Regions from separate parts of the Homo sapiens genome. Here region 1 is linked to region 2. The links come from fine-mapping of genetic effects on gene expression. Tissue or cell type: sun-exposed skin. Region 2 holds a variant in brackets; the other region holds the start of a gene. All regions are shown on one strand. Distances are from middle to middle. Region 1 holds the start of AKNAD1 (AKNA domain containing 1). Region 2 overlaps AKNAD1 (AKNA domain containing 1).

What was found. PIP is the estimated chance that this variant, and not a neighbour inherited with it, causes the effect.
Region 1: it holds the start of AKNAD1, and the variant in region 2 is the best candidate, but not a certain one, in a credible set for the expression of AKNAD1 in sun-exposed skin (GTEx, PIP 0.83).

Annotation. Positions count from the first base shown.
Region 1 is chr1:108,855,409-108,859,802 of GRCh38, forward strand. AKNAD1 (AKNA domain containing 1) reads right to left here and starts at 1,686. Exons shown (of 16, transcript NM_152763.5): 1 at 1,521-1,686. It overlaps SPATA42 (spermatogenesis associated 42), which reads left to right and starts at 1,809. Exons shown (of 3, transcript NR_034168.1): 1 at 1,809-2,093; 2 at 2,750-2,859; 3 at 2,977-3,116.
Region 2 is chr1:108,832,911-108,837,304 of GRCh38, forward strand. AKNAD1 (AKNA domain containing 1) reads right to left here. Exons shown (of 16, transcript NM_152763.5): 8 at 2,019-2,146; 9 at 1,537-1,618. LOC105378891 (a long non-coding RNA gene) reads left to right here. Exons shown (of 5, transcript XR_947687.3): 3 at 1,280-1,426; 4 at 3,339-3,558; 5 at 4,051-4,093. Among named protein-coding and RNA genes, the nearest start is that of AKNAD1, 22 kb to the right of the region's middle. The variant C/T (reference allele first, on the strand shown) is at 1,904.

The DNA of each region.
Region 1 (4,394 bases), 22 kb after region 2:
CTCAAAACAAAAAAGACATAATCTCTACAAGAACTTTAAGACAATTTTAAAACTCAATCTGTAAATAAATATATTTGAAGGTAAAAAAAAAAATCAGGCTGGATGAGGTGGCTCATGCCTGTAATCCCAGCACTTTGGGAGGCTGAGGCAGGTGGATCACTTGAGCTCAGTAGTTCAAGACCAGCCTGGCCAATGTGGCAAAACCCATTTCTACTAAAAATACAAAAATTAGTTGGGCATGGTGGTGCATCCCTATAGTCCCAGCTACTTGGGAGGCTGAGGCAGGAGAATCACTTGAACCCGGGAGGCAGAGGTTGCAGTGAGCCGAGATCATGCCGCTGTACTCCAGCCTGAGCAACAGCAAGACTCTGTCTCAAAAAAATAAAAAATAATAAATAAATAAATAAATCACTAAGCAAGTTTAAACAAAATATTGTCTAATTTTTTAGAACAAAAAAAAACAGAGTATCTTTTTTTTTTTTTTTTTAGACAAGGTCTCACTCTATCACCCAGGCTGGAGTGTAGTGACAACACCATGGCTCAACTGATCTTCCTCCCTTAGCCTCCTGAGTAGCTGGGACTACAGGCGCACACCACCACACCTGACTAATTTTTAATTTTTTTTTTAGAGATGGAGTTTCACCATGTTATTCAGGACGGTCTCGAACTCCTGAGCACAAGTAATCCACCTGCCTCAGCCTCCCAAAGTGCTGGGATTACAGACATGAGCCACTGTGCCTGGCCTGAGAGTATGTTTAAATGCCTACAGAGAGAATGGAAGAAGAAGAAAACAAATTCTAGTTTTGCAAGACTTTTAATGACCCAAGTATCAGTCCCAAAGTTATCCTCATGCTTTCTTTACATTTTCAGGAGCTCATTGCCAAACGCCATACCCTTCTTGTATAGAAAGGAAAGATACTTTGTTGGCCAAATTCCCACTTTTAAAATATAATTAATTAAAACTGATAAAATTTGAATTTTGCTCTGGCTCTCAAGAAAAAGAAAAAAAGTCCAGGCACAGTGGCTCATGCCTGTAATCTCAGCACTTTGGGATGCCAAAACAGAAGGATTCCTTGAGGACAGGAGTTTGAGAACAGCTTGGGCAACAAAGCAAGACCCTGTCTCTACAAAGAAAAAAAAAATTAAAAATTAGCCAGCAGTGGTGGTATATGCCTGTAGTCCCAGCAACTTGGGAGGCTGAGATGGAGGATCAGTTGAGCCCAGGAGGTCAAGGCTGCAGTGAGCAGAGATCATGCCACTGCACTCCAGCCTGGGTGACAGAGCAAGACCCTGTCTCTCTCTCTCTCTCTCACACACACATAAACACACACACACAAACACACACACAGACAAAGAAAGAAAGAAAGGAAAAGAAAAGGAGTGAGATACCATTAAGATAAACCAGAAACCTGAGGAACACTCTCATTACATACAGGAAAACAGCTTCTGTTGTTATTATTTTTTGCATGTGTGCATGCAAAATATCAAGAGGATTTTTTCTGGAAAAGGACAATCCATACCCTTAGCAAGGTAATGAGCTTCTTTGAGATAACTGGAGGAACTGGAGCATCTTCCCATGTCAACACTTGGCTCAATCTTGAAATCCAAAGGCATATCCAAAGAGGTTCCACTCAGAATCCAACAGAACCTTTCTGTAGAATCCAAATTGATTTTCTGAAGTCAGGTGACTACATTTGGGGCCACGCCTGCTTATGCAGCTATCTTGACCATTATGTGCTCAGCAATACCTCACAAGTCACTCTGAGATGAACACTTTGAGCAAACAGGGCCAGGACATCACAGTGACCCAGGCTGTGAAAACACTTCAGGCCAGTCCCTGAGTAGGAATGGACAACAAGGTGGTCACCATGCTGACAGCTATTCCCTGTGTGATTTACTTTATTATGAAGTCTAAATTTGATGCTGAAGTGCTAGCCTAAGCTCACTAACCTGCCAACTTAGAGAAGAAGGTAACCATGGCTAGGATGACTGGGAATCTGATGGACTCAATTAAGAATTTCTACAGATGGGAAAACCAAAACTCCTTAGTGGCAAGAGGCCAAAGATGGTCAGCGAATTGTTGTTTCCGGCTGGTAGGTGACATTTCTTCTATTCGCTAAGCCCATTTTGTGATAACACAGTTTTCCATATTGACAGGATTGTTTTCATCACCAAAGGAAAACCGTGGGTCCATGTTCCTGTGACAATCTCTTTGTCTCATTCCCAACACCCTCTGTTCTGTGTTTAAACCTCTACAAACCAGGCAAACTGGGGACTATGTGTAGGACCCAGACATGGAGGAGAAAGCAGGCATTGTTTCTACTTACCTTATCTGCCCCTCCACTAAGGTACCAGTTAGTACAACCACGTAACACTCACAAGTCCTACACTTCTAAGATCAGCCCTACTGACTTTGTCACGGTAAGAGTTGGCTGTTGGAGGCAATGATTCAACAATCTAAATTCTGATTATTCCTTTTTGTATCTGTCATTTAGAATGTGAATAGTGTACATCTAAAAGCTTTAAGTACATTATCCATCAATTTTTACTACACAAAGCAGTATGCTGCTCTGTCTTCAAACAGCACAATGCTACAGTCAACACAAAGGGCAAAACCATGGCAATATGGCAATTGCAATAGAAACTCACCAACATCTTGGAGTCTCTGGATATCACAGGTGAACAAGTTGAAGGGCCTTGCGACACAGACAAGCAACCCTTTAATTCTAAATCATCTTTTTTTCAACAGTTGGAAGTTGACTGCAGTTGAATAACAGAACAAAAACGGAGCTTCAAAATCATGGCGTGCCTGCTTCTTCTGGGTTCTTTTAACTGCAAGCAATCAGCTTTGAAGAGCACGTAGGGAACTTCTGATGTGATACAAACTTTTGTCTTTTTTTTTTTTTTTGTCTTTTAAGAGCATTCAAAAACACTTGGTCTGGCTGTTTCAATTTTCTCTTTCTCTCCTATTCCTAGCTCAAGAATAACATTTACATATGAAAGAAAATAGGAGATGGCTCAGAATAATATGTCCAAGGCCACGCCCAGGCGTCAGGGATTCATGAATTTTGTATACAGTGTATGATGTTTCTAGATTAAAATATTTTCAAAGGTAACATGATATAGGCTCCCTCTGTAATGACTGCATTTGATTATGCTCTGGTAATTCTATCAGCTAACTTTATCTCAGAAATGTGGGGTACCCACAATGCAGTGCCTCAACTGTAACCATATACCATTCAGTGAGGCTGTCTAGCTTCACCCTGTCATTGTGGGGTGGCAGAAGGGAGACACTGTGATGGGCAACAAGTCAATCCAATACTCCTACAAGAGCCAGATGGATGTATTATTTATAGTCAGTCTTAGGGCTGTCGTCCTTTTGGGAGTGCGCATGAATTTGATGACCAGCTGTTACAAATTTGTTATCCTGAAACTATTTTAGAAGTTGGGGGGAAGGGAGGAAAGCCTTTTAAAAGTGCGAGTAAAGCAGTATTTGGAGAAACTTCCTGCCTGTGTTTTACCAGAAAACTTTGCTGGTTTTCCTTGCTCTTTGGTGAGGTTAGCCCTGTCTTTTTATCCAATTTTCCCATTGATGTAGCCTAGTGTGTGCTGTAAACCACGGACCTTTGCTGTGCTTTGGGAACATTTAGAAAACTCTTACCAATTAATTTTCTGAAAGTAATTCCAGTGATAAACTTTAAAACACATTGATTTAAAGAAGTATAATGTCTTTTTTTTTTTTTTTTTTTTTTTTTGAGAGAGAGTCTCACTCTGTCACCAGGCTGGAGTACAGTGGCGCAATCTTGGCTCACTGCAACATCCGCCACCCAGGTTCACGCCATCTCCCACCTCAGCCTCCCGAGTAGCTGGGAGTACAGGCACGTGCCACCAAGCCCAGCTAATTTTTGTATTTTTAGTAGAGGCAGCATTTCACCATGTTGGCCAGGATGGTCTTGATCTCTTGACCTCATAACCCACCTGCCTCGGCCTCCCAAAGTGCTGGGATTACAGGCATGAGCCACCACACCCAGCCAAAGAAGTATAATTTTTAAATTTTATTTATTTATTTATTTTGTAAAGATAGAGTCTTGTTGTGTCCCAGGCTGGAGTACAGTGGCATGATTATGGCTCACCACAGCCTCTACCTCCTGGGTTCAAGCAATCCTCCTGTCTCAGCCTCCCGAGTAGCTGGGACCACAGGCATATACCACCACACCTGGCTAATTTTTTTTTTCTTTTTTTCTTTTTTTTTTTTTTTTGTAGAGACAGGATCATGCTAGGTTGCCCAGGCTCATCTCGAACTCCTGGGTTCAAGCGATCCTCCTCCTCAGCCTCCCAAAGTGATGTGATTACAGGCATGAGCCACCATACCCAGCCTCGAATAAGTATAATTT
Region 2 (4,394 bases):
AGGCCAGATTATCAGAATTTTCAGCATGTACCATTTGAACCATTAACTGCAATCCTAGGGTTTTATTCTAAGGAAATGATCAACTACAAATGTTTGCATGTCAAATGATGTTACCTGAAGCAGTGTTTATGATATCAAAGAACTGGAAAAAACTAAATCTCCATCAATAAGAGATTGTCTAAATGTGTCAGAGTACATTAGTATAATGAAATATAGTACAGTCATCAAAAATGAAGCGATAGTTTATTCTAAGTGATGTGGAGAGCTGCTCAAAATATAACATTAAATGAAAAGCATAAAACAATATATATAGTAAAATCCTATTTTGGCCAAAATGTATATATAGGAGAAAAAAAGACTGGAAGGATATACACTAAAATATTAGCAATGGGCCAGGCGCAGTGGCTCATGCCTGTAATCCCAGCACTTTGGGAGGCTGAGGTGGGTGGATCACCTGAGGTCGGGAGTTCTAGACCAGTGTGGGCAACGTGGTGAAACCTCCTCTCTACTAAAAATACAAAAATTAGCTGCACGTGGTGGCACATGCCTGTAATCCCAGCTACTCAGGAGGCTGAGGCAGGAGAATCACTTGAACCCAGGAGGCAGAGGTTGCAGTGAGCTGGGATCGCACCATTGCACTCCAGCCTGGACAACAAAGCGAGACTGTCTCAAAAAAAAAAAATTAGATTGATTTTCCTCTCAGTGGAAGTTTCTTCTTTATACTTTTCTTTATTTTCTCATTTCTCTTGTAATAAGCATGTATCAGTTTTATAATTTAAAAAAAAAGGGTTTTTTCATCCATTTTTCCCATGGTTTTTTTTTTTTAATTTTTATATTTTATCATTGCTGAGCTTACAGGGTTACTCCTCCACTGACATTTAAGGCAGATTTACATTAGCAGAATGCAGGGAGGTGCCCCTCCACCTGAGTTGGAGACCCGGGCATCACCTATCATTTACCCTGAACAAATATCACCTTTCTAAACTACTCTTCCTCTGCAAAAAGTCTTTGCAAACTGTAAAGCTCTGAGCCAACATAATTATTATATCATTGTTTACTGCTTATTATAATATTATAATATAATATCATTTAAGACCCCGGGGTTGGTAATCCCAGCATTTCCAATTCATTCGAAATGAAATAATCTCTAGACCCTCAGAATTTAAAATGTGGTCCGCAGACCAGAACCAGCAGCTTTGGCATCACCTGGGGCTTGTTAGCAATGCAGAATTGCAGGCTCGCCCCAAACTTACTGATTCAGAGCCTGCATTTTAACAAGATCTGCAGGTGATTCATAGGCTCGGAGAAGTTGGAGAAGCTCCGGTCTAGGTACGCCTGCCGAGATTCTCAGGAGTGCAGAAAGTGGGAAACCGTCAGCAGTACCAGCCATCACCAGCACTGACACCCAGGATGCCATTAGGAAGAGGTAAGTGATCTTGATTATGCCAATTTCACAGTCACATTCAGCAACACTGGTTTTAGTTAAAGAGCCAACAATGAGAAGAACCCAGCCAGGCCCCGGCTGCAGGACATTACCCCAGAGTTAGAAGACAGCCTCATGGCCACTTGGTCTGGCTTGTTCTGGGCAGCTGCATCTCCATAATGACCGTTTAGGTAACTAATTTAAAAAAAAAAAAAGCAGTTTGAATGTTAGAATCAGTTCTTGAGCTACCTGGGAGCTCCACTATTTGGAATCACTTGGCATCACCCCTGGGATGGTGGGAGCGAGCAACCTAAGGCAGAGAGTGCTATGGGCCTCATGCGGCCACTTGACCTTCACCTCTCCCCGCGTCCCCCAGCCCCAGCTGTCCCGTCCCTCAGATCTCTGCCCAGAGGGTTGCAGAGGCTGGCCAGGCCCTGCTGGTGGGGCAGGTGAGGAGCCAGGCTACCAGGCTTTGTAACT[C/T]GTGGTCCAAGACTGCTTTTCCTGTGGGAGCCTCATGGGCCTTCCTGGAGGCTGCATGAGGAAGGGGCCTCTTTCTGTGTCCTGTGTCTGCTGGGGCTCCAGGGCTAGGACTCACGTCTGCGGGGCCAGCTCACAGAGCTCCTCGTTGGGGGCCTCCTGCGGCCCTCCTTGGGGTGTCCCTGTTACCTCACTCCCACCTGAGCCTCGAGGCCCAGAAGGGTGGCCGGGGTGCTCCTTGGGAATCTGGGGGAGCCACACAGAAAGACTTGAATTAGAGCCACAGTCCCACTGGAGGTGACTCAAAATCAGTTCAGCATCCCTACAGCACCCCTAAGGCACCATAACATCCTGCCTGGCGTCCCCCCACCCCTGTCTCCCCCAGCTCTTTACCTAGCTGTCTTCTCATCCTCCAAGACTCAGTCCAAATCTCACCTTCTCTGAAAAACCTTCTCCCTTAGTAATTCAAACCTTCTGCATTTAGTTACTTTTGGTCATATCCCATTACTTAATAGTCATGATAGCTAACACCCAGGAGTAATGTACTCACTGTGAGCCAGGCCCTATTTTCAGTACGTTACTTATATTAACTCATTTAAACATCATAACAGCCCTGTGAGGCAAATATTATTATCTGCATTTTACAGAAGAGAGAACTGAGGCACAGAGAGGTTGCATAACTTTCCTAAGATCACAAAACTAATAAGTGACAGAGCCAGTATGTGAACCCAGGTAGTCTGGCTTCAGAGTCACGCAGAATGTATTATTATTTTCTGCACTGTGCTTTTTAACATTTCATAATTATATGTTAATTTAATTTTTTTTTTTTTTTGAGATGGAGTCTTGCCCTGTCACCCAGACTGGAGTGCAATGGCGCAATCTCGGCTCACTGCAACCTCTGCCTCCCGGGTTCAAGCGATTCTCCTGCCTCAGCCTCCCAAGTAGCTGGGATTACAGGCGCCCGCCACCACGCCCGGCTAATTTTTTGTATCTTTAGTAGAAACGGGGTTTCACCATGTTGGCCAGGCTGGTCTCGAACTCCTGACCTCGTGATCCGCCTGCCTCAGCCTCCCAAAGTGCTGGAATTACAGGCGTGAGCCACCGCACCTGGCTTAATTTGTTAAGTATATGTCTCTCTTACAGAAATGTAAGCATCTTGAGGGCAGGTGATTTGTTTGTTGTTCATGTTTTATCCCCAATACCTAGAAAAGTGCTAGCCTATAGCAATACATACTGCTGAGTGAATGAAGGATGCCAGCACTAGACTCTTTCCAGAACCACTTACCACAAAGTTATTTAGAGAGTTCTCATCATTTCACAACAGTAGCTGTAAACTTGGGACCAAGTAAAGAAGAGCAGATCCAGACCCCAGGGAGCTGCCAGGTAGAGGGCAGGGCCAACCCTGAGGTGGCCTCACAAAGACTTGTGACTCCTGCAGGTCCAAGACTAGCAGGGCAGCCGCTGTGAGCCTGGAAACTGCTTGGGTGCCTTGAGATGGGCTGTTACATCCACGGTGGCTCAGGGCTTCCTCTATGAAGCATCGACTCTCCTGGGCTTTCAGCTGGACATTCAGGATTCAAAGATGAGTGCAGAGTCACAGAGACAAACGAGACCCAGTGCTGCGGGGACACAGAGGCCGGGGCCAAGAATTCCTCCAGGTGCGGGGGATTGGGGGGCTTGGGGGTGAGGAGGGTGGCTGACTAGGGATGCATAAATGACCTGACGCTAGAGCTGGGCCTTGAATGAGTGAGATTTTGCCAGGCAAGTAAGTGCTTTGAGGAGGCAAACACTTCTTCGGAAGGGCTAACCTTGACATAATCTTTGTCACTTTGTCCTTCGCTTTGACAAAATCCTCATTCAAGTTTGAATATCAGCCCCAGGCTGTGTCTTCAAATACTGTATGAAACTAAAGAGTCAATTTAAGGTATTTATTTAAATGATTCTGTTTCTCAGAATTTTGATTTTAGTCTGAATGTTCTGATAGTTGAGGCTACAAAGGCAAAAAGTATAGAAAGACAGTGGTGGTTAATTTGAATTCCCAATCTTGCATAAGTAGAAATCCAAAAGAATTTAACTTGAGAGAAGGAAAATGCAGAAGTGGATTCATGGGAAATAATTATTTCACTGAGTGTGCTATTCTTTATTTTCAGGTGGCTCATGCCTGTAATCCCAACACTTTGGAAGGCCAAGCGGGCGGATCACTTGAGGTCAGGAGTTTGAGACCAGCCTGGCCAACATGGTGAAACCCCATCTCTACCAAAAATATAAAAAATTAGCCAGGCAGTGGTGGCATGCACCTGTAATCTCAGCTGCTTGGGAGGCTGAGGGAGGAGAATCACTTGAGCCCGGGAGACAAAGGTTGCAGTGAGCTGAGATCGTGCTACCACACTCCAGCCTGGTGAGTACAAAACTATGAAGAAAAAAAATTATTTCTTCCAGGCATGATCTACAAAAATTTTCTTATTAATTTGGAAGAAATAGCTCTTCGGTGGTT